Regions from separate parts of the Homo sapiens genome. Here all the other regions are linked to region 2. The links come from fine-mapping of genetic effects on gene expression. A gene starts in region 2. Each other region holds a variant in brackets. All regions are shown on one strand. Distances are from middle to middle. Region 1 overlaps CLPTM1 (CLPTM1 regulator of GABA type A receptor forward trafficking). Region 2 holds the start of CLPTM1 (CLPTM1 regulator of GABA type A receptor forward trafficking). Region 3 overlaps NECTIN2 (nectin cell adhesion molecule 2).

What was found. PIP is the estimated chance that this variant, and not a neighbour inherited with it, causes the effect. A credible set is the group of variants that fine-mapping cannot tell apart.
Region 1: its variant is the best candidate, but not a certain one, in a credible set for the expression of CLPTM1 in whole blood (TOPMed, PIP 0.85).
Region 3: its variant is the best candidate, but not a certain one, in a credible set for the expression of CLPTM1 in whole blood (TOPMed, PIP 0.66).

What each region holds. Positions count from the first base shown.
Region 1 is chr19:44,971,251-44,982,430 of GRCh38, reverse strand. It overlaps CLPTM1 (CLPTM1 regulator of GABA type A receptor forward trafficking), which reads right to left. Exons shown (of 14, transcript NM_001294.4): 3 at 9,221-9,344; 4 at 7,834-7,992; 5 at 4,971-5,088. Among named protein-coding and RNA genes, the nearest start is that of CLPTM1, 21 kb to the right of the region's middle. The variant C/T (reference allele first, on the strand shown) is at 5,825.
Region 2 is chr19:44,950,135-44,958,434 of GRCh38, reverse strand. It overlaps CLPTM1 (CLPTM1 regulator of GABA type A receptor forward trafficking), which reads right to left and starts at 3,055. Exons shown (of 14, transcript NM_001294.4): 1 at 2,968-3,055. The coding sequence starts at 3,039. RefSeq lists a silencer at 2,803-3,132.
Region 3 is chr19:44,865,996-44,870,995 of GRCh38, reverse strand. All of the region lies in intron 2 of NECTIN2 (nectin cell adhesion molecule 2), which reads right to left. Among named protein-coding and RNA genes, the nearest start is that of NECTIN2, 22 kb to the right of the region's middle. The variant T/C (reference allele first, on the strand shown) is at 1,924.

The sequences.
Region 1 (11,180 bases), 23 kb before region 2:
GCTACTGGGCACTGCAAATATGGCTGGTCCAAACCAAGAAGTGCTATGATATAAAACACACGCTAGACCCTTTTTTTTTTTTTTGACATAGTCTCGCTCTGTCGCCCAGACTAGAGTGCAGTGGCACGATTTCAGCTCACTGCAACCTCTGCCTTCTGGGTTCAAGTGATTCTCCTGCCTCAGCCTCCCGAGTAGACGGAATTACAAGCGTTAGCCACCATGCCCGCCTAATTTTTGTATTTTTAGTATAGCTGGGGTTTCATTATGTTGGCCAGGCTGGTCTCAAACTCCTGGCCTCAAGTGATCCACCTGCCTCAACCTCCCAAAGTGCTGGGATTACAGATGTGAGCCACCGTGCCCAGTCACACACACTAGATTCTGAAAACTGACACAAGGGGAAACAAAAATGTAAAATATCTCACTTTTTATACTGATCATATGTTGAAACGAGAATATGTTGAGCTCAATTAAACTATTATTGATATTAATCTCATGGTTTTTCTTTACCTTTTTATTTATTTATTTGTGAGACAGGGTCTCCTTTTGTTATCCAGGCTAGAGTGCAGTGGTGTGATCACTGCAGCCTCAACCTCCTGGGCTTGGGTGATCCTCCTACCTCAGGCTCCCGAGTAGCTGGGATTACAGGCATGTGCCACCATGCCTGGCTAATTTTTGTATTTTTATTAGGGGGGGTTTTGCCATGTTGCCCAGGCTGGTCTCGAACTCCTAGGCTCAAGCAATCCTCTAGCCTTGGCCTCCCAAAGTGCTGGGATTACAGGTGTGAGCCATCACGGCCCTGGCCTTACCTTTTTATTATTTTATTTATATTTCTTTTTGAGACAGGGTCTCGCTTTGTTGCTCAGGCTGAAGTGCAGTGGCCTGATCACAGTTCACTGCAGCCTTGACCTCCTGGACTCAAATGATCCTTCTACCTGAGCCTCCTGAGTCGGAGGACACTACAGGTTGCGCACCACCATATCTGGCTAATTTAAAAAAATTTTTTGGCTCACGCCTGTAATCCCAACACTTTGGGAGGCCAAGGCAGGTGGGTCCCCTGAGGTCGGGAGTTCGAGACCAGCCTGACCAACATGGAGAAACCCTATCTCTACTATAAATACAAAATTAGCTGGGCGTGGTGACACATGACTGTAATCCCAGCTACTTGGGAGGCTGAGGCAGAATTGCTTGAACCTGGGAGGTGGAGGCTGTGGCGAGCCAAGATCATGCCACTGTACTCCAGCCTGGGCAACAAGAGTGAAACTCTGTCTCAAAAAAAAATAAAATAAAATAGGCCAGGCGCGCTGGCTCATGCCTGTAATCCCAGTGCTTTGGGAGGCCAAGGCGGGTGGATCACGAGGTCAGGAGATCAAGACCATCCTGGCTAACACGGTGAAACCTGGTCTCTACTAAAAATACAAAAAAACCATTAGCCGGGCGTGGTGGCGGGCGCCTGTAGTCCCAGCTACTCAGGAGGCTGAGGCAGGAGAATGGCGTGAACCCGGGAGGCAGAGCTTGCAGTGAGCCGAGACTGCACCACTGCACTCCAGCCTGGGCAACAGAGCAAGACTTCATCTCAAAAAAAAATAATAATAAATAAATAAAATGAAATAAAATAAATAAAATAAAATAAAATTTTTTTTTGTAGAGATGAGGTCTCCCTATGTTGCCAGGGCTGGCCTCAAACTCCTGGGCTCAAGCGATCCTCTGACTTTGGCCTCCCAAAGTGCTGGGACTACAGGCATGAGCCACCGTGCCTGGCCTCTCTTTACCTTTTTACTCTTTAGTATTTTTCTATTGGAAAAATTTTAATGCCTTCTCTGGCTCACATCCTATCTCCATGGGACGGAGCTGCTCTAGAATACTGATTATTGGCCTCTTGGGGATAAAAGGGGCTTTTCTTTTCTTTTTTTTTTTTTTTTTTTGAGATGGAGTCTTGCTCTGTCGCCCAGGCTAGAGTACAGTGGCACGATCTCGGCTCACTGCAATCTCCGCCTCCGGGGTCCAAAAGATTCTCCCACCTCAGCTTCCCGAGTAACTGGGATTACAGGCATGTGCCACCATGCCCAGCTAAGTTTTGTATTTTTAGTAGAGACAGGGTTTCACCATGTTGGCCAGGCTGGTCTCGAAGTCCTGACCTCAAGTGATCTGCTTGCCTTGGCTTCCCAAAGTGCTGGGTTTCCAGGCATGAGCCACCACAACCAGCCAAAAGGGGGCTTTTCTGAACTCACACTCTCCTTCACCCTGGAGTTTGTGGGTGGCTCACTCCAAGTCCTTCTATGTCCCTGCTTTGAGGGTCCCAGCTCCAAGGCTGGGGAGGGAGGCCTGGATGATCCTAGTATGCTTTTCAGGTTCACTGTCTGCAGGTTCTATTTTACAGACCAGACTGACTGTGAATAAACCTCACCACACAGTGACATGGATCACACTCACCAAAGACAAAACTGCAGAAAATACTGGCATCGATTTGGGTCAACGGGATGATTAGGTGATCGTCAAACGGGGTACAAGAATAGGGTGAAGAGCCACCCACCTGGGTCACCTTCAGAGCGACCTCTGAAACATCGGGCATTTTAGCCCAGACCCCTGACGTATCCCCCTGCAGGGAAACATCTGTGAGACCAACCCTGTAGGTCACACCCCCTCAAGCCACTTCTGCCTGGTTCTCCAAAGATCTCACCACATGGACGTCAGCCGGGTGGGACATACCAACGCAGCACATTCTTCAGACACACTCACTCAGAAAGGGGCTCAAGTAACTCCAGAAGACCTTTCCAAGTCATTTCTAGGGACCCACATAGAGTCAACTTTTCATTTCATCCAGTATAGGTGATAAAAAAAAATTACCATCCTTTAGGATATTTTTGTACTAAAAGAAGTAGGTAAGACCTAACTCATACAAATAGAATTCTGTCTGTTGCTGCGCCACCCAAAACCAGCCAGATGGATCTTAACCAAATCCACAGGGAATGTCTGGAATAGTCCTCAATAAAGTGAAAGCTAGGTGGAGTACACAGAACTCCCGTTAGAAGAATGGGGGGCTTTCTGAGGAAGCCATTCTCCAGCTCCGCTCAAACAGGTACAGCAAGAGATTTCTACGGCTGCCCATCAGGAGACAGAGGACTCAGGGAAAAAGCTCACAGAGAACCAAGCAAGGCTGGGTGTGGCAGCTCACACCTGTAATCCCAGCACTTTGGGAGGCCGAGGCAGACGATCACTTGAGGTCAGGAGTTTGAGACCAGCCTGGCCAACATGGCGAAACCCCGTCTCTACTAAAAATACAAAAACTAGCCGGGCGTAGTGGCGTGTGCCTGTAGTCCCAGCTATTTTGGAGGCTAAGGTGGGAGAATCGCTTGAACTTGGGAGGTGGAAATTGTGGTGAGCTGAGATAGTCCACTGCACTCCAGCCTGGGCGACATAGTGAGACCCTGTCTCAAAAAAAAAAAAAAAAAGAGCCAGGCAAGCAGAAAGATGACAACAATTATTAACTTCTCGAAAACAAGAGGACGGACAATGCTATGGTTTGAATGTTTGTCCTGGCCAAAACTCATGCTGATTCTCCCACCTCAGCCTCCCAAGTAGCTGGGACTACTGATGTACTCTAGTACTCCCCACTCCCAGTGAAACTTAATCCCCAATGTGCCAGTACTGAGAGATGAGGCTTTTAAGAGGTGACTGGGTCATGAGGACCCTCCCCTCAGGAACTGATTAACCCATTCATGGATTAGTGGTTTAATGGATTAATGAGTTATCATGGGAGTAGAAGTGGTAGTCTTATTTTTTATTACTATTGTTTTTTCAGAGACGTGGACTTGCTCTGTCGCCCAGGCTGGAAAGCTGTAGTGCAATCACAGCTCACTGCATCCTTGACCTCCCAGGTTCAAGCGATCCTCCCACCTCAGCCTCCCATGTAGCTGGAACCACAGGTGCTCACCACCATACCTGGCTATTAATTTTTGTAGCAACGAAGTCTCATTATGTTGCCCACACTGTTCTTTGAATTTTATCTATTTTTTTTTTTTTTGAGACGGAGACGGAGTCTTGCTGTGTCACCAGGCTGGAGTGCAATGGCGTGATCTCAGCTCAATGCAACCTCCGCCTCCTGGATTCAAGCGATTCTCCTGCCTCAGCCTCCCAAGTAGCTGGGACTACAGGAGCATGCTACTACACCCAGCTAATTTTTGTATTTTTAGTAGAGACGGGGTTTCACCGTGTTGGCCAGGATGGTCTCTATCTCTTGACCTTGTGATTCACCCGCCTCGGCCTCCCAAAGTCCTGGGATTACAGGCGTGAGCCACTGTGCCCGGCCTCTATCTATCTTTTTGAGACAGGTTCTCGGTCTGTCACCCAGGCTGGAGTGCAGTGGTGTGATTCTGGCTCACTGCAACCTCCACCTCCTGGGCTCAAGCGATCCTCCCACCTCAGCCTCCTGAGCAGCTGGGACTACAGGCACACGCCCAGCTAGTTTTTGTGTCTTTTTTGGTAGAGACAGGGTTTTGTCATGTTTCCCAGGCTGGTCTCAAACTCCTGGGCTCAAGCAATCTGCCCACCTTGTCTCCCAAAGTGCTAGGATTACAGGCATGAACCACTGCACCCAGCCCACAAATTATTTTTGAGTGTCTACTTCTATCAGGCCCCTACTGTGCAAAAGTCAACCCTGGCCCTTCCCCCTTGGTGAAGGACGTCTCCTCCTCTCCAAGAGTCCCTGTCTCCAGCTGCTTTTTCTGGCCAATTTCTCTCTGGTCCCTGAGCCTCCGTGGGTCTCCCTTCCTCCGTGGGTATCCCTGCTTAGTGTCCACAGGGCTCTTTCAGGCTGGGTGGGGCTTGAGCCTGCCCTGCCAATCCCACCCTCTTTGAGCACAGGCTTCCTGCCTGCCCTCCTGGACTTGGGATTTGTCCGCCACATTAGCCTGGGGGCTCCCAGGATGCTGGCCTCCTGGACAGTGGGTCCTGGCTGCAGGGGAGCGACTTACTCCGGGACATGTGGACTGTGGCAAGCCGGCGGTACAGGGCCTTCTGCCGGGGGTCTGGGTGGAAGCCACTCTTGGTGAAGTAAACGTGGATGTAGATGGAGCCGTTCTGCTGGACGCTCTGCAAAAGACGGAAGGTCAGGTGGGCAGGCTGGGCAACTGGGGTGAGGGAAACGTTAAAGCCCTGCCTGGCACCCATCTGCAGCAGTTTCCTCCCCCTCAACTCTCTGGCCATTTACTGAGTACTCAGGGTGGGGCATGTAGCTGGGTGGCAGAGAGGTAAATGCTGGAGTCAGACAGACTCAGACGCCCGCTCTACCTGCCATGGCCGTGTGAGCTCAGCTTCTCTCTGAGCCTCAGGGCCCCACCTAGAGGATGCGAAGTTCCCACAGCACTGACCCGAGGGCACCACTGCAGGGACTACCTGGAGCACTGGCACACAGCTCAGTCAACGAGCTCTCGTTAAGCTCACTCAACAGGAAGAAGCAGCTGACCGACATGGAGCTCCTACTATGGGCCAGACCCTGCCCTGGGCACTTCAGACAACAGCTTCCTAATCTAACGAGTTAACACACATATAACATGTCAACCTTATGCAATGGGTCATGTTACCACCCCATTTTGCAGATGAGGCAAACGGGGCTCATGCCAAGGGGTCACATAGTGTGTGGCAAGTACGCAGATGGAAACCCAGTCTGTGGGCTCCTGGGTGCTACTCCCTGCTACCTCCAGCTGGCCCCTCTCTGCCCAAGTCTTCCTCATTATCTCATCAAGTCTCCTTGCCTCCCAGGGAAGGGGGACTATTCTCACTTGATCCAGATGAGGAAACTGAGGCTTCAAGAAGGGAGGCAAGTTGT[C/T]CAGGGGCACTGGGTGGAGACAAAGGCGAGCACTGAACCTCTCTGATCCTTGTGCAGAGCTCGAATTCAGTTGGCCACATTGTGTTCTCCTCACTCTCCCTATCTTTTTTAGAGATGGGGTCTTCCTGTGTTGCCCAGGCTGGAGTGCACTGGCTATTTGCAGTTGCGATCATGGCACACTACAGTCTTAAACTCCTGGGCTCTGGCCATTCTCCCACCTCAGCCTCCTGAGTAGCTGTGCCTACAGGCACATGCCACTGTGCCCAGCTCTCCTGCCTTTTAAGTCCACTTGGACCCCACCCTGAAGCTTCGACTTAGATCCAAGCCCTTGGAAGCAGATCCCCCTGCTGGGCCTGCCAGGCCCTGGTCCTTCCTTGGATCTCGTGGCAAGGCCTGGGGGCTGGGCTTGAGGTCTCTGTGGGAGTCACCTCTCAGTGCAGGTCAGAAAGTCCAGCCAGGTGGGGTGGTTCATGCCTGTAATTCCAGCACTTTGAGAGGCTGAGGTGAGAGGATCGCTTGAGCAGAGGAGTTTGAGACCAGCCTGGGAAACATGTTGAGACCCCATCTCTACAAAAAATTAGCTGGGCATGGTGGTGCATGCCTGTTGTCCCAGCTACTTGGGAGGCTGAGGTGAAAAGATTGCTTGAGCCCAGGAGGTTGAGGCTGCAGTGAGCTGTAATTGCACCACTGCACTTCAGCCTAGGCAACAGAGCAAGACCCCATCTCAAAAAGAAAAGAATGATGGCTGGACGCGGTGTCTCACGCCTGTAATCCCAGCACTTTGGGAGACCAAGGTAGGTGGATCACTTGAGGTCAGGAGTTCAAGGCCAACCTGGCCAACATAGTGAAACCTTGTCTCTACTAAAAAATAAAAAAATTAGCTGGGTGTGATCATGTGTGCCTTAGTCCCAGCTACTCAGGAGGCTGGCACATGAGAATCGCTTGAACCTGGGAGGTGAAGTTGCAGTGAGCCAAGGTTGCGCCACTGCCCTCCAGACTGGGTGACAGAGCGAGACGCTGTCTCAAAAAAAAACAAAAAACAAAAAAAAAAACCAGAATGACTGTGTCCACATTCTGCTTCTAGCTACCCAGACAGAAATAGAACAGAAATGTGCCCTCCACCCCAAAGCTGAGAAGGCCTGCTGGGGAGAAAGGAATGAGGGCAGCTGTCTTGGACTCAGCCGAAGAAGGCCCCAAAGAGAGATGTCCCTTTTACTTGTTCAATACTTGCTGATTCTGCACCCAGCCCCACGTTGGGCAGTGCTGGGGACATGGAAGTGATCTAGGCAGCCCCAGCCTTATTATCACAAGGCTCACAGTCCCATACAGGAGTCCCAATGAGGCCCCAGAATGGGCTGGGATGGGGAAGCCCAGCAGGTGTGAGAACCCAGAGAGGGTGCTTAACCAAGCCTGAGTGCTCTGTGAGTCAGGGAGGGCTTCCTGGAGGAGGTTGGATTTGAGCCTAGGGCTGCGAGAGTCCACAGCCGTAGAGCCTGAGTCTGAATCTCTCATGCGATGTGGCCTTGGGTAAATCACTTTCCTTCTCTCTCAGTTTCCTCACATGTTAAATGAGAATAATAACAGTTCCTGCTTCACAGGGTTGCCGGGAAATTTCCATGAGTCAGCCTAGCTTAGTACCCTGCACTTAGCTCAATCAACATTAACTAATATTATTTTGAAACGGGGCTGCCTGATAAACTGGTGATAGGCAAACATCCCCAAGGACAATTACTAATCTTTCACCAGTTTAAAGTGGAGGACTGCACAACCTTAGAGGTAGCTGGGAGGGTCCCAGGCCAATTCCACCCCTATCTACCTTTTTCAGGTAGGGGAAAGTGAAGCCCAGAGATCTCAGGGACTGGCTTGTGGTCACAGACCATGTGAGCCCAGGGAAGGGCCAAGCCTGGAGCCCAAACTCCACATGCTCTCAGCAAGGAGCGGACTGGAGGAAAAGGTCCTTCAGTGCCAGTCAAGCAGCCATGGGGCCAGAAACCGAGAGCTGCCCCCACCTGTGGGATATCGAGCTCAGCAAAGTGCTCGTAGCAGCCGTCTGAGTTCTCGCCGCTAGTCCAGTCGCCATACACAAGATCGTGCTGTTCCCAGAAGAGTGCCGACGTGGCGTTGAAGTCTGTAAAGTGCTCGTGCTCTGAGATGTACACATGCAGGTTCTGTTGGGACAGGAAGGGAACAGAGCTCAGGCCTGCTCTTCAGAGCCTCTGCAGGCTGGCTAAAGAGCTATGGCAGCGGTCAGCACACTCAGGGGAACAGTAATTATGGAGGACAGGGGAGAGGAGAGAGGAAGAGCAGCAGAGAGGACATATTTTCTCTTTTCTCATACCACCATGTTTGTCCTGGTCTGAGCCTGTGAAGTCAACGAACAAAGAACACTTGGAGACTGGCCAGCCTGCCAATTAGAATTTAGGGGTAGGAAGGGGCAGGAGCTCCCTGAATGATCTCCTGCCCTCATGGCTGCTGGGCCTTCCTGGTCAGAGCTCTGCAGGCTTATGGACGAAGCAGTCCAGAGCTACAAAAGCACTGTGAGCCACCGGGCACGGTGGCTCATGCCTGTGATCCCAGCACGTTGGGAGGCCAAGGCGGGTAGACCACTTGAGGTCAGGAGTTCGAGACCAGCGTACCAAAAAGGTAAAACCCCATCTCTACTAAAAATACAAAAAATTAGCTGGACGTGGTGGCACATGCCTGTAATCCCAGCTAGTCGTGAGGCTGAGGCAGGAGGATCACTGGAGCCCGGGAGGCAGAGGTTGCAGTGAGCTAAGATTATGCCACTGCACTCTAGCCTGGGCGACAGAGTGAGACTCCATCTCAAAAAAAAAAAAAAAAAAAACCCACTGTGACCCAACAAGAACTTCCTCCTTTCTCAAGCCCCAATGGCCATGTTTGCTCAGAAAAGCCTAGACTGACAGATCTAAATGCTTTTGCTCTGGAGGCTCCTGAAGCCCTGCCCTGCCTGTGCCCAAGCCCACTGTGGAAGTGCAGGTCTCCTCTCCTTCCGGGCCCACCTCCTGTCAGCCTCTGCTGGCTCCCTGCCCTCCCCACCTCTCACACTCTCTCCCTTGCACATCTCCCTCTGCAACCCTGAAAGGCTGAACATACTTTTGAAATATAACATCCAAAGACCCTGATTTAACCTATTTTAACCAAATGAATTTGCTTTTTCTTTTGGGTGACACAGGTTTTATGTGCTGGGGATGGACCCAGGTGACAGAGGTCTCACGTGTTGGGGATGGGCCCAGAGTTCCTCAACCCTGGACCTGTTTTCCTAGACCTGCCAGTGAGCAAGGACCTGGTCTGTCCCGACTGCTGACATCACTCCTCCACATTCCACCCCTCCACACCCCATCACCTCCCAAGTCTGCCCTACCACCCGGCAGTTACCATTAAAGTGTCTTTGGGGAACAGGTTGCGGCTGGCGACGCGTGGAGCTCCTCCGGGGCCCGCCTGGTCCTGAGGGGCCGGCCCTCGGCGGAACCAACTGCTGATGGCCCAGATGATGAAGATCCTGAGGAGAGAAGCAGCAAGGTGGTGAGTCCCCAAGCCTTGGCTCTCCGCCATAGACCCGCCTGACTTCCTTCTGACTTAGCACATGCTGGCGCCTGACCTGGGGCTAGTGACCAAGTCAGGGAGGCCCTGAGAAGGTAGTCACAGGGCTGGCAAGGAGATAAGATGTCCCTAAAGACCACATCTGGGGAGGGAGCCCAGATGCCACCGTTTGCCAGTGTGTGGGGGTAGCTGGCACTGCCCTGGTCTGCATGCAGACCCTTGACTCTAAATCCTGCAGGAGCTCCTGGTGACCACAGGGCTGCAGGGGCTGACTCTTGACTCAGACTGGGAAACCTGCCATCCAGCCCCCTGGGATCCCCCGAGAGGAGACTAAGAATCTGGAACCCCTTCAGTGTGCAGATGGATGAATTAAAAGAAAAAAGAAATAAAGAAAAAATAATAAACATAAAATTTTTAAAAGAAAGAATCTGGAATCCTAGCGCTTCAAAAGCACAGAACCGGGGATGGTTAATGGCTACAAAAAATAGAATGAACGAGGACGGGCGCGGCGGCTCATGCCTGTAATCCCAGCACTTTGGGAGGCCAAGGCGGGCGGATCACGAGGTCAGGAGATTGAGACCATCCTGGCTAACATGGTGAAACCCTGTCTCTACTAAAAAATACAAAAAAATTAGCTGGGCATGGTGGCGGGCGCCTGTAGTCCCAGCTACTCCGGAGGCTGAGGCAGGAGAATGGTGTGAACCCAGGAGGCAGAGGTTGCAGTGAGCCAAGATCGCGCCACTGCACTCCAGCCTGGGCAACAGAGCGAGACTCCATCTCAAAAAAAAAAAGAATGAATGAGATCTAGTATTTGGTAGCAAAACACGGCAACTCTAGTCAATAGTAATTTAATTACACATTTTAAAATAACTTAAGAAGTATAGAGGCCAGGCACAGTGGCTCATGCCTGTAACTTTGGGAGGCTGAAGTGGGCAAATCACGAGGTCAAGAAATCGAGATCATCGTGGCCAACATGGTGAAACCCTGTCTCTACTAAAAATACAAAAATTAACTGGGCCTGGTGGTGCGTGCCTCTAGTCCCATCTACTTGGGAGGCTGAGGCAGGAGAATCACTTGAACCCGGGAGGCGTAGGTTGCAGTGAGCCGAGATTGCGCCACTGCCCTCCAGCCTTGCAACAGAGTGAGACTCCATCTCAAAAAAAAAAAAAAAAAAAAAAGTATAATTGGGTCAGGTGTAGCAGCTCATGCTTGTAATCCCAGCACTTTGGGAAGCTGAGGCAGGCGGATTGCTTGAGCTCAAAAGTTTGAGACCAGCCTGGGCAACATGATGAAATCCCGTCTCTACAAAAAATATAAAAATTAGCTGGGCATGGTGGCCCATGCCTGTAGTCCCAGCTACTTGGGGGACTGAGGTGAGAGAGTCACTTGAGCCCTGACGGTCAAGGCTGCAGTGAGACGTGATTGCGCCACTGCACTCCAGCCTGGGAGATAGAGAGCTTGTCCCAAAAAAATTAATCAATTAATTAATTAAATTTTTTAAAAAAGAAAAGGAAAAGAACCGAAGGCACAGAAGCTTAGAAAGAGCAACATTTCTGAACTTTTGGAGAATTTTTGGAGAAGCAGATAGTAAGTGATACGTTAGTTCCAATTTTAGTAACAGTGGGCTTAATTATTCAGACCAACCCTCTCACTGGAAAAAATTGGAAAAGCTTGATAAAATTAATACACTAAGAAAATATCAATATATTTTATATTTGTAATTATACATATTGATAGAATGAGAATATATGCTGCTCACGTATTCTCGTATTTGTTCTCATGCATGTAATTTTTA
Region 2 (8,300 bases):
GTGGTGAGAAAGCGAGACTCCGTCTCAGAAAAAAGAAAAAAAAAAAAAGAGTCACTCTTTTCAGCTCCTATTTCCCTCAGAGTAAAGGCCAAGTCCTCCCCATGGCCTCCAAAGCTTGGCATAATCTGCATCTGTCCCCAGCCACCCCTCTCCCCTCACCCGCTCCAGCCTCCTCGCCCTTCCTTCATCACACCAGGCACCTCCCACTTTAGGGCCTTCGCACTGGCTGCTCCTTTGCCTGAAAAGCTTTTCCCTCGTGTATCTTTGGGACTCCCTCTCTCACTTCCTTCAGGTCTTTGTTCAAGCGTCACCTCCTCAGAGAGGCCTTCTAGACTACCCTATTTAATTGCAACTCTTCTACCCACCCCTCACTTCCTATCCCCATCCCAGCTTTATTTCTGTCCATGGCACGCAGAGCCATCTGAACTGCTGTTTTTCTTATTTATCTTGTTCACTGTGTGTCCCTGTCTGTGCTTCCCCTATAAATTCAGCTCCAACTAGAACATAAGTGTAAGGGCCTTCAAGAGGGCAGCACCTATTTTATTCACAGCTGTATCTCCAGCATCAGCAAAGGCCTAGCATGGAGTAGACTCAATTCGCATTCGCTGAAGGAAGGAATGGCAAAGCTGTGGGTTCTGTGTCCGAGTTCCTGGCTACAGGAGCAGGCTAGCTAAAGCAGCAGACTGTGCAGAGGGTGTGCCTGCTGTGCACTAGGCCCTGGGCATGGGAGAAGGGTGGCAGTGGCTGTGGACACATCAGTGACTAAGACACAGTTCCTGCTCTCGGATCTGCACGTCCACGCACACACACAATCCCCAGCAACATCTGCTAAAGGGTCCAAGAAGTAGCTGAGACCACCAGGGCTAGGCAAGAGCAGGAGGAAGCTAGGTTTTGCGGCATGTCTTCACTGATTACCTGGATCCACCACGGCATCAGGGAATTCCACCTCAGCCCAGCCTCTGTTTCAAGATCCGCTCATTCCACAAACACTGAGCACCTCCTCTGTGCCTGGCGCTGAGCTGAGTGGTGCTAAGGAAGCAGTGGTGATCAAGGCAGTCCTGGCTCTGCCCTCCTGGGGTTCCCAGTCCCCAGACAGTGAAACCCAGTAGGGCAGGGCTGGGACAGCGGAGCCCAGACAGTCAAAGAGGGCTTTCTGCAGGAAGGGACATCTGAAATCTGTAGGACTAATACACATCAACTAGCTAAAGAGGGGAGAGACCTGTGCATAGACTATGAGGAAAGAGACTGAGAGGCAATAAAAGAGGTTTAGAAATAAAATAGGTTCAGAGCAGCGGATCCCCTTTAGCGCAGTTGTTCTCACGCAGGGATGGCTTTGCCCCCCTGCTCTTGGAACATTTGGCAATGTCTGGAGACATATATGGTTGTCACAACTGGGGAGGGGCGTGGATCCTACTGACATCTAGTGCGTAGAGGCCACGGATGCTGCTAAACATCCTAAAATGCACAGGGCAGCCCCCCAAACAAAGCATTATCCAATTCAAAATGTTGATAGTGCCGAGCTCGAGAAATCCTAGTCTAGTCTGAAGAAAAGTGTCGGATCGTGCAAGACTGTGATTTATTAAAGAATTTGTACTTTGTCCTAAAGGCAAAGGGGTAACTCTTGATTGTTTTTAAGCAGAGTTGGTACAAGAGAAGATCAGAGTGCCATCTGGAAGCTCAGGGCAATGAGAACAACCTGGGCCCTGGTCTCTCAAGCCACCATCAACCCAATAATCAACAGAAACCCAGAGGGGAAACGACCTCCTTTCAGCAAGACTGGGAAACCCTTGAAGACAGGAACTGAGCCTTCATTCCAGCACTAACTCAACAAACATTTCCTAAGCTGTCCCTGAAGCCAGGCCCTGGCTGAGAATGCTGAAAAGATTCAGAGCAGATACAGTGGGCTCTATCACACAAATTTCATCCATGTGTCCTACCCAAGTGATACCACTTGCTCTTTCTCTGGGCTCCCCCAGTCCCTGACACAGACTTTTGTCACCAACCTAATCATTCAGGATTACAACTGTTTACATGTCAGTCTCCTCTCTTCGTCCCCTGACAGCAGGGATATGGCTGGCCCTCCTGTCCAACCTCTGCATTTAACACGGGAGAGATAAAGGCCTAAAGAGGGAAAGGAACTTGCCCAAGGTCACACAGAGAGTCAGCTTCATTCTCCCCTCTCAACCCGCACTCCTTTCCCCTGAGCTGCCTCCCACATGTCAGTGACATCCCAGTGGGTGGGTCGACAGCACCTTCATGTCTCTCCATCTATTCCCCAAATGCCTGAACGGTAGCTGCCTGAAATGGTATGCTCTGCAGTGTGTTAAGACAGCAGTGGGGCAGAAGTCATCCGCACCAGGACTAATTAACCCATAGAACTATTTTACATTAAAACCACAACCATACCAGTCCCTGTGTCAGCAGTGTCTTGTAACTTCTACATAAAGTTACAAACCTAACCAGGATGACCTTCTAGAAGCGCCTTAGTCTCACTGTTCCTTGAATTCCCGTCTGTAAAATGGGTCTGTCGGCCGTGCCCTGCTAATACTGACTTCCCCACAGCTAGAAAACTCCCAATTAATCACTGCGCACACCTCAAACACTACAACGAGACCTGAACGCCAGACCACTCTAGGAACGGCCTCAGAGCATGGAATCGCGGAGTTGAGAACCCAGCGCGCCAAGGTACAAGCCTGCGCCCCTCCGAGCCACTGTCTCCCCGGATCGAGCAATGAGCCTGGTGGCCGCCCGGCTCGAGCGTGCAGGGGAACCGACCCGCAACAGGGCCCTGTTCCCGGCACCGTCCGGCCTCCCGGGCGGTCCGGCCCTGCCTGGGCCGGGTATTCAAGGTCCCTCTGGCCAAGGAGCCCCCAGTGCACGGGATTCCGTGACAAGAGGTAGGACACGCCCCGTGGGAGGCCCCCCGGCTGGGGAAGAACCCCCTCAGTCCCCTCTCGGCCTCCGTACCTGACCGGAGCTGCCTCCCCCGGCCGCCACCACGGCGCTGCGGGCCCCGTCCGCCTCCTGCGCCGCCGCCATCTTCCCGCTCCGGGTCCCCGCCCCCGCCGCCAGCCCCGCCCCGTCCCCGACTTCGCAGCGCAATCGCGCGAGATTTCACGCTTTCCTAGCCCCGCCGGGCCACCCTATCCGGCAAGAGTGCCGCAGCCACGCCTCTCAGGAAGGCCACTTCCGGCTATGGAAGGACCAACCTGGCCACCGTACTCGTCTTTCTCCCAGCCCGTTTGTTTCCACCTAATAAAAACACTGTATGCTCCGAACTCCAGGACTTTCTCGGCCAGCATGTGCCTCCCGCAAGTTCTGTCCCTTCCGTCCCTTCACATTAACCCGCCTTTTCGGTTATATGAGCCTTTCGGGACATCCTGTCCGCTTCTCCCTGCCGATTCTTCGCGTCCTTTTCGTTCCATGTTTCTTGAGCTTTACCGGCCACTGTACGGCTTCGAACCACGCCCCTCTTTCGTCAGAGGAACCTTTCTGGCCACCGTATTCTGATTCGAAGAACTAGCCTTTTGCCCAGCACCCTTGTCTTCTGACCCCTCTTCCTAAGACAACTCTTTCGTTCAAGTCTCCTGAGCTCATATCCTTTCTGTGTTTTTAGAGTTCCAATTCCAGGGGTCTTACGGCCAACAAACCTCCGATGAGACCCTATGATACACCCCCAAGCCTTCGGACTGCCCTGCCTAGCACGCATGCGCGTTCCCTCAGTGGTCCAAACCTCGCATCCGTGGGCTAGGCTTCACGGGCTCTGAGAATTCCACAATTTTTCATTAGCTGTGTGTCTTCGTACAGCTCTAAACCCGGCCATCTGCTGAGAGACCCTTAGTTTGGAGAGGGTGTTACGGAGGCCCAGAGAGGACAAGACTCTCAGAGGCTGTTAACTGTTCACCCGTGAAATTGGGTGGATGTCTGGCCAGGGTTCTAACCCTTGTGGTGCTACTGACTGGATAAGATATCCTGGACAAGTGACGTCTCTCTCTCTCTTTTTTTTTCTTTTTTAGACGGAGCCTCACTCTCCCCCAGGCTGGAGTGCAATGGCGCGATCTCGGCTCACTGCAACCTCGGCTCACTGCATCCTCGGCCTCCCGAGTAGCTGGGATTACAGGAGCACGCCACCACTCCTGGCTAATTTTTTTTTTTTTTTTGAGACGGAGTCTCGCTCTGTCACCCAGGCTGGAGTGCAGTGGCGCGATCTCGGCTCACTGCAACCTCTGCCTCCCGGATTCAAGCAATTCTCCTGCGTCAGCCTCCCATTTTTTTTTTTTTTTTGTAAGTAGAGACGGAGTTTCACCGTGTTGGCCAGGCTGGTGACAAGTGACATCTATGTTTGAGCCTCAGTTTCTCCCCTTTTATAAACCAGGGATATAATCGTACTCGTTCTTCGTCTTCCCGTTTTGCCCCGCTGTGTTATTGGGAAGACGTAGTTAGATGGCGAATGGAAAACATCAGGCCCTGGGCCTCATGCTTAAGTGGTCAATATTTGGAGCGCTGTGATTATGAACCTTATATATTACCTGGAAAAAGAGTAAGCTTTGCATTGGGATATTCTGAATATATAATTATCATTTTATTATCGGTTTCCTCCACTTTCCTCTAGGTCTCAGCCCTGTAACAGTAGCTCTCGCTCTAGGAAACTCTCTCTGAGCCCTTTTCCTATCCTCCCTTGCCCCCTCAGCTCCTCCACCCCATCCCTGCTCACTTTGTGTCATCACTGTCAGGGATGGGTGTGTCTCCCCAACTGGGCAGGCTGACCTGGGACTGTTGTGGTCACTGCTGTATCTCCAGCACTGCCCTGGGGATGATTGCCCTGGGGATGAGGCTCTCTAGGTGCAGAAGGTGAGTGACTTACCTCTCTGAGGGCTAACACAGGACAAGAAGGAACCTTAGAAAACTTCGCTCCTCAGCCAGGCGCGGTGGCTCACGCCTGTAATCCCAGCACTTTGGGAGGCCGAGGCAGGCGGATCACCTGAGGTCGGGAGTTCAAGACCAGCCTGGCCAACATTGTGAAACCCCGTCTCTACTAAAAATACAAAAATTAGCCGGGCATGGTGGCGGACGTCTGTAACTCCAGCTACTCGGGAGGCTGAGGCAGGAGAATTGCTTGAACCCGGGAGGCAGAGGTTGCAGTGAGCCAAGATCATGCCACTGAATTCCGGCCTGGGCAACAGAGCAAGACTCCACCTCCAAAAAAGAAGAAAGAAAAGAAAAAGAAAACTCAGTGCCTCATCCTCACTGTTACAGACAATAATGGTGTTAATAACGATTCTTTGAATGTGTAGGCCCAGTCTTTTAAGTCCAGGGATGAAGTGAATAGACTAAGACAGGGATTGAGGAGAGACTTTGTGGGGTCTGAAGCTTATGTGTTTTGTGGGCCTCTTTTTTTTTTTTTTTTTGAGATGGAGTCTTGCTCTGTCACCCAGGCTGGAGTGCAGTGGCATGATCTCAGCTCAATGCAAGCTCCGCCTCCTGGGTTCACACCATTCTCCTGTCTCAGCCTCCGGAGTAGCTGGGACTACAGGCGCCCACCACCACGCCCAGCTAATTTTTTGTATTTTTAGTAGAGACGGGGTTTCACCGTGTTAGCCAGGATGGTCTTGATCTCCTGACCTCGTGATCCGCCTGCCTCTGTCTCCCAAAGTGCTGGGAGTACAGGCATGAGCCACCGCGCCTGGCCTGGCCTCTTTTAAAAAGTACAAAATTGGCTGGGTGTGGTGGCTCACACTGTAATCCCAGCACTTTGGGAGGCAGAGGCTGGTGGATCACCTGAGGTCGGGAGTTCGAGACCAGCCTGACCAAAATGGAGAAACCCCATCTCTACTAAAAGTACAAAATTAGCTGGGCATGGTGGTACATGCCTGTAATCCCAGCTACTTGGGAGGCCAAGGCAGGAGAATCGCTTGAACCTGGGAAGCGGAGGTTGTGGTGAGCCGAGATCATGCCATCGCACTCCAGCCTGGGCAAGAAAAGGGAGACTCTGTCTTGAAAAAAAAAAAGTACAAAATGACTTGTACAAATTTAGGTAGAGGACCATGGAAAGCCCAGGCAAGTGAGGGGCTTTGAAACTTTCTCCAGCCTCACTGCAACCCCAACTGCGCTCTCAGCTATAAATACAAACTGCTGCAATCTGCTCTCCAAGTCTCATACACTGCAAGGGCCAATGTGTTGGAGCATGATGAGGTCTAAGCTTCTCATGAGAAGTGTGACCTTGGACAGGGCTCCTGTGGAGGCAGGTTCCCTGCAGAGCCTTCCTATGCTCTGTGGAGTGACCAAATAAATTCTGCCATTCCGTCCAGGCTTCGTGGCTCATGCCTGTAATCCTAGCACTCTGGGAGGCTGAGGCAGAAGGATCGCTTGAGCCTAGGAGTTTAAGACCAGCCTTGGTGACATAGCGAGATCCTAGCTCTACTAAAAATTAACAAAATTAGGTGGTGTGGTGGCATCCACCTGTGGTCCAGCTACTCTGAGGCTGAGGTGGGAGGGATGCCGGAGCCCAGGAGTTCGTTCGAGGTTGCAATTAGCTGTGATCACATTACTGCACTCCAGCCTGGGTGACAGAGTGAGACCCTGTCTCTAAAGAAATTAAAAATCATAATAAGTAAAAAATTCTGCCATTCCTGCTGTATGTAAGTCACAGGACAGACCCACTCTTCTCTCCACTAGGGGGCGCAAAATACTGATCAAGGGCTGTGATTTCAGGTTCTAAGGGAGAAAGGGGGCTGGGGATCCAACCTTCTAGGTCCTGAGGAGAAGGGACTGGGGGGTCCCAGACTCCTGAGTTCTAGGGGAAGAAGAATCTAGGGGCCTGGACTCTGGGGGCCCTGAGGGGAATGGGGTTCTGAGAAAGAAAGGAGGAGTCTGAGGCCAGCACCAGGATTGGTTGGAAGCCGAACTGGTCCGGGCAGTGCTTTGGCTTGGCTTGAGTCCGTGGGAACCAAGTGGACACAGCAGGGATTGTTACTCCAGGGTCTTCCCCTCCCCACCACCCCCTGCACTTGGCAGCCTCTGTTCTTCCCAGGCCCCGGGGACTCGGGGGCATTGCCCACAGTCCCTCTCCAGGGCCCCTGTTTTTTACTGGACTCAGCTGCCCAGCCTCAGGACCTGGGAAAACTGCCCCAAGGGTGTTGAAAGCCTGGCAGGAGGTTAATGCCAAGCAGATTAGGAGAAATACAAGCAGTGGATCCCCAGAGACCAATAGCCCCACCCATGGGACTTGGGGAGCAGTACCACCCTGGACTCCCTCAGGATACAGGAATCTTGGCCCCCAGCCCCCTTCATTCATGGTCCCAGCACTGGCCTCCTTCAGACCATGGAGCCTCTGCTTATTTGCACCTTCTGCCTTCTGTGCTTTTTGCTTGCAATTTTTTTTTAATAAGTTTTTCTTTTTTTTTTTTAGAGACGGAGTCTCACTCTGCTGCCCAGGCTGGAGTGCAGTGGCACTATCTCCGCCTCCAGGGTACAAGCAATTCTCCTGCCTCAGCCTCCAGGTAACTGGGATTACAGGCGCGGGCCACCCCTAGCTAATTTTTGTGTTTTTATTAGAGACAAGGTTTCACCATGTTGGCCAGGCTGGTCTTGAACTCCTGACCTCAGATGATCTGCCCACCTCAGCCAACCAAAGTGCTGGGATTACAGGCGTGAGCCACCACGCCGGCCCTAGAGGTTTGTCTTCTTGGGTCCCAGCCAAGAAGTACTGACTTGGGCACCATTCTCCCTCTGCCACGGGACCATTATACACTGATTGCAATGGCACGTTTAAAGTGTCAGCCCAGGCCTGGTGCGGTGGTTCACACCCGTAATCCCAACACTTTGGAAGGGCAAGGTGGGCAGATCGCTTGAGCCCAGGAATTGGAGACTAGCCTAGGCAACTTGACGAAACCCCGTCTCTACTAAAAATACAAAAAATTAGCCAGGTGTGGCAGTGGGCATCCCTAGTCCCAACTACTTGGGAGGCTGAGATGGGAGGATCTCTTGAGCCCAAAAGGTCAAGGCTACAGTAAGCCAAGATCTCACCACTGCACTTCAGCCTGGGCGACAGAGCAAGACCTTATCTCAAAACAAAATAAATAAAATAAAAAATGTGTCAGTCCAGCAACTGTAAGGCAGGAAAATAGGGAGGCAGGGAACATAAGGCCAATTCACTTCAGCTATAACAGGAAACATCCTCTCCGGTAGGCCATAAATGACTTTGTAACTTTTCTTCATCCTCTCCATTTACATAGGGTGTACCAGAAGTAACCAGTGGAAGGGGAATCCTCTAGGGGGAATTTAAACTCCCAAAAATTCTG
Region 3 (5,000 bases), 86 kb after region 2:
CACTTTGGGAGGCCCAGGTGGGCAGATCACCTGAGGTCAGGAGTTCTAGACTAGCGTGGCCAACGTGGTGAAACCCCATCTCTACTAAAAATGCAAAAATTAGCTGGGCGTGGTGGCAGGTGCCTGTAATCCCAGGTACTCGGGAGGCTGAGGTAAGAGAATTGCTTGAACCTGGGAGGCAGAGGTTGTAGTGAGCCGAGATCGTGCCACTGCACTCCAGCCTGGGTGACAGTGAGACTCTGTCTCCAAAAGAAAAAAAAAAAAAAGGAAAAAAAAAAAGCAAATCAAGGCCGAGCGAGTAACTGAGTACTGTGGTTCAAAGGTCCAGCTGGAAAGGCCCCCTGTTCCTTTTCCTGTAATCACCATTAGATGATTGAATGACTGGAAGTGTGATAAAGGCAGAAAATCTCAAAGCCGTTTCTTTTTTTTATACCCTTTCCACCTCATTCTCTTGGAAAACATGGAAAAAAATCACAAAAACAAAACTCCAGGAAGAATAGCAGCTCATGCTTATGATGTGTGTCCCCCACCCAGACTCACATCTTCTGTTGCTTTCTGGACCTGGGTATCCACCTCTGAACTTCTCAACACGGTCTGACTCTCCTCTTCTTCCCAGCTCTCCCTTCCCACCGCCTTCTCCCCTGACCATCGTGGAGCATCCAACAAGCCTCCCCACATCCTCCTGGCCGCCCTCCAAGCTGTTAGAATAGTGACTCAGGGCCCGAGCCCACCACTTCCCCATGGCCACCTCCCCTGGCCACTCCACATGCTCCCCATCCACGCCCTCCTCAGTCTCTGCCTCCACCCACTTTGGGGTTTTGGTTGGTGATTTTGTGCCTGGATTGCTTTGGCCTCCTTCTCCAGACCCCACTCCAAGCCCCACTTCGTCAAGGGCACTTTCCTGACCGCCGACTCTGGCCAACTATTCCTTGGTGGCTCACGCATCATGAAGACAGAGGCTTTGGCTGTTTTGTTCCTTACTTCTGCACCAGTGTGTATACGGAAGCTCTTGAGGTTATCTCTCTCTCTCTCTTTTTTTTTTATTAATTTGAGACAGAGTCTTGCTGTCACCCAGGATGCAGTGCAGTGGTGCAATCTCAGCTTACTGCAACCTGCCCTTGCTGGTTTCAGCAATTCGCCTGCCTTAGCCTCCTGAGTAGCTGGGATTACAGGTGTGCGCCACCATTCCTAGCTAATTTTTATTTGTAGTTTTGGAGACCCTCTCTCCAAGAAACAAACAAACAAACAAAAGCTCACTTGCAAGAGCTGCTTGCCTTGGCCCCTGCTTGAAGTGTATATTCAGGGCAACTTCAATCTATGCTCCCAGGTGGTCATCCTCAAGCTTTGGGCTTGATTAAACCCTACACTTAATCATATTTTCTTTTCTTTTTTTTTTTTTTTTTGAGATGGAGTCTCGCTCTGTCGCCCAGGCTGGAGTGCAGTGATGCGATCTCGGCTCACTGCAAGCTCCGCCTCCTGGGTTCATGCCATTCTCCTGCCTCAGCCTCCCAAGTAGCTGGGACTACAGGCACCCGCCACCACGCCCGGCTAATTTTTTTGTATTTTTAGTAGAGACAGGGTTTCACCGTGTTAGCCAGGATGGTCTCAATCTCCTGACCTCGTGATCCGCCTGCCTCGGCCTCCCAAAGTGCTGGGATTACAGGCGTGAGCCACTGCGCCTGGCCCTTAATCATATTTTCTGAGTCTCATTATTTATTTATTTATTTTGAGACAGAGTTTTGCTCTTGTTGCCTCTCAGCCTCCCAAAGTGCTGGGATTACAGGTGTGAGCCACCGTGCCCAGCCCTGAAGTTATCTCTGGATGAGAACAAATGATTGCACAAGAAGAGAGGCGTTTGTGAGGGTGGGGAGGAGAAGAGCTGTCCTTTGTATTATGGAAAACGGCTGTGGTTTCATGTGTTAC[T/C]GGAAAGGGAAGTGTTTACTCAAGGATAGCACAGGGTGACCTTCTCAGACGCTCTGGGCTGAGAAGGGGGAAGAAAAGGCATCCAGAGTGACGTGGCTTCTGGGAAGTTGCCTAGGGAAGGTGGGCTCCCAGGGGACTTCCAACATATTTTTTTTTTTTTCCAGACAGAGTCTCACTCTGTCGCCCAGGCTGGAGTATAGTGGCGCGATCTCGGCTCACTGCAAGCTCCGCCTCCCGGGTTCAAGCCATTCTCCTGCCTCAATCTCCCGAGTAGCTGGGACTAAGGCACCCGCCACCACGCCTGGCTAATTTCTTGTATTTTTAGTAGAGATGGGGTTTCACCGTGTTAGCCAGGATGGTCTCGATTTCCTGACCTCGTGATCCGCCCGCCTCGGCCTCCCAAAGTGCTGGGATTACAGGAGTGAGCCACCACGCCCAGCCTCAAGATTTAAAGAAAGAGCATTCGTAGCTGGATGTGGTGACTCATGCCTGTAATCCCAGCTATGCAGGAGGCGGAGGTAGGAGGATCCCCTGAGCCCAGGAGTTCGAGTCTAGCCTGGACAATGTAGTGAGACTTTGTCTCAAAAAAAGAAAAAAAAAAAAAAAGAAAAAGGAAAAGAAAAAAAAGCATCCTTCAAAAAAAATCTTCCCTGCCTTCTCTATTTTTGCCAAGTATCAGTCACCTTCCCGCTGGGAGTCCTATTTTTTTTTTTTTTTTTTTGAGACAGGGTCTCGTGCTGGAGTGCAGTGGTGCAATCTTGGCTCACTTGCAATCTCTGCTTCCCAGGCCCAAGCGATCCTCCCACCTCAGCCTCTTGGGTAGCTGGGACTACAGGTGTGTGCTACCATGCCCAGCTAATTTTTTTTTTTCTTGTAGAGATGGGGCCTCACCATGTTGCCCAGAGTGGTCTGAAACTCCTGACCTCAAAGCGATCTGCCCACCTTGGCCTCCTAAAGTGCTGGGATTACAGGCGTGAGCCACCGCACCAGGCCTGGGACTCCTCTCTGATCCTGCTTCCCCCTCAATCCATGGGCAAGCCCAGCACCTACTATCTTCTAAAAACACCACTATATGCCGCCCGCTTCCCTCTGCCCCCCACTGCCTCATCCGTCTTCCCAGCAATGCCTCTTCTCCCCTCTCGTCCCAGCTCCCTTCTACCTCCGTCCACTCCTCCAATCACTCCTCATACTGCTGCCGGTCATTTTTTGCAACCTCAAACGTTTGTCCAGATCTCTCCTGTGGCTTGACACCTCCCATGGCTCTTAACCATGCTGAGGGCATAGTCCAGCCTCCTCGCCTCCACCTGTGAAGCCCGTGTAATGTGGCCCCGCTGAGGGTCACCCAAGCCCTTGCCTATCCTCACCAGCCCCCTTTCCATTCCTGGAACGCGCCCAGCTCCCATCTCATGCCCACCTCCCAGGTTTCTGTGCCCGTGCCCCTCTGCTATGCCCAAAGGTAGCTCCTTCTCAGACTCCAGGACTTGACTAAGACGCCTTCCCTGCACATCCTATCTCAATGAGGCCACTATGTCCCCTACTTCTAAGCCGTTTTACTTCCTGCCCGGACTGGACTTGTTTTAAGACAGGGTCTCGCTCTCTTGTCCAGGATGGAGTGCAGTAGCACAATCACAGCTCACTGCAGCCTCAACCTCCTGGGCTCAGGTGATCCTCCCACCTCAGTCTCTCGAGTAGCTGAAATTACAGGTAAGTCACTGAGCCTGGTTAATTAAAACAATTTTTTTTTCTTTCCTGGCCAGGCTCAGTGGCTCATGCCTATAATCCCAGCACTTTGAGAGGCCCAGGTGGACGGATCACCTGAGGTCGGGAGTTCAAGACCAGCCTGGCCAACATGGTGCAACCCCGTCTCTACTAAAAATACAAAAAAATTTAGCTAGGTGTGGTGGTGGGAGCCTGTAATCCCAGCTACTTGGGAGGCTGAGGCAGGAGAATTGGTTGAACCTGGGAGGCGGAGGTTGCAGTGAGCCGAGATCGCGCCACTCCACTACAGCCTGGGTAACAAGAGCAAAACTCTGTCTCAAAAAAAAAAAAAATTTTTTTTGTCATTGAGACAAGAGTCTTACTATGTTGCCTAGGATGGTCTCAAATTCCTAGGCTCAAGGGATCCTCCCACCTCGGCCTCCCTGAGTGCTGGGGTTATGGGCGTGAGCCACAGCACCCGGCCCCACCCGGACTTTGTAGTTGCCTTACCCTGTGGTTTCTCAGCTCCCATTCTTTCCCCTCCCAACACAGCCAGGAGGAGCTGGTGAGAACCCAAGCCAGATCAAACCTGTCTGCTGCTAAGAACCTACTACAGCTCTTATCCTCCCTGGGCAAAAGCCAAAGGCTTCTTATAGTCCACAAGGCTTTTGCCAATCTGTCCCCATCCTCTCCTTGACTTTATTGCTTCCTACTTTCCCCCACTCATATGTCTCCAGCCACCCTGACTTCCTTCCTGGCCCTCAAATACTCCAGGTATTCCTGTCTCAGGGCCTTTGTACTTGCCATTCCGTCTGCCTGGAACGCTCTTCCCTTAGATACCCAGAGGGCTCCTCCTCTCCTAGTTTCTGCCTAAATATCCCCAGACCTCCTTAGCTAGAATTGCAACTTGGCCCTCTCCAACTTCCATGGCCCCTTTAACTGCCTGACTTACTCTTTTATTTATTTATTAGAGATAGGGCCTCACTCTGTCACCCAGGCTAGAGTGTAGTGGCATGATCACAGCTCACCGCAGCCTCAAATTCCTGGTCTCAAGCGATCCTCCCACCTCAGCCTCCCAAGTAGCTGGGACCACATCTGCGCACCACCATGGGCTCAAGCAATCTACCTGCCTCAGCCTCCCAAAGTGCTTGGATTATAGTCGTGAGCCACCACACCCAACCTCAATACTTTTTTTTTTTTTAGACCGAGTCTTGCTCTGTCACCCAGACTAGAGTGCAGTGGTGGCACAATCTCGGCTCACTGCAACCTCTGCCTCCTGGGTTCAAGCGATTCTCCTGACTCAGCCTCCTGAGTATCTGGGATTATAGGCACGGGCCACCACACCCAGCTAATTTTTTATTTTTCGTAGAGACAGGGTT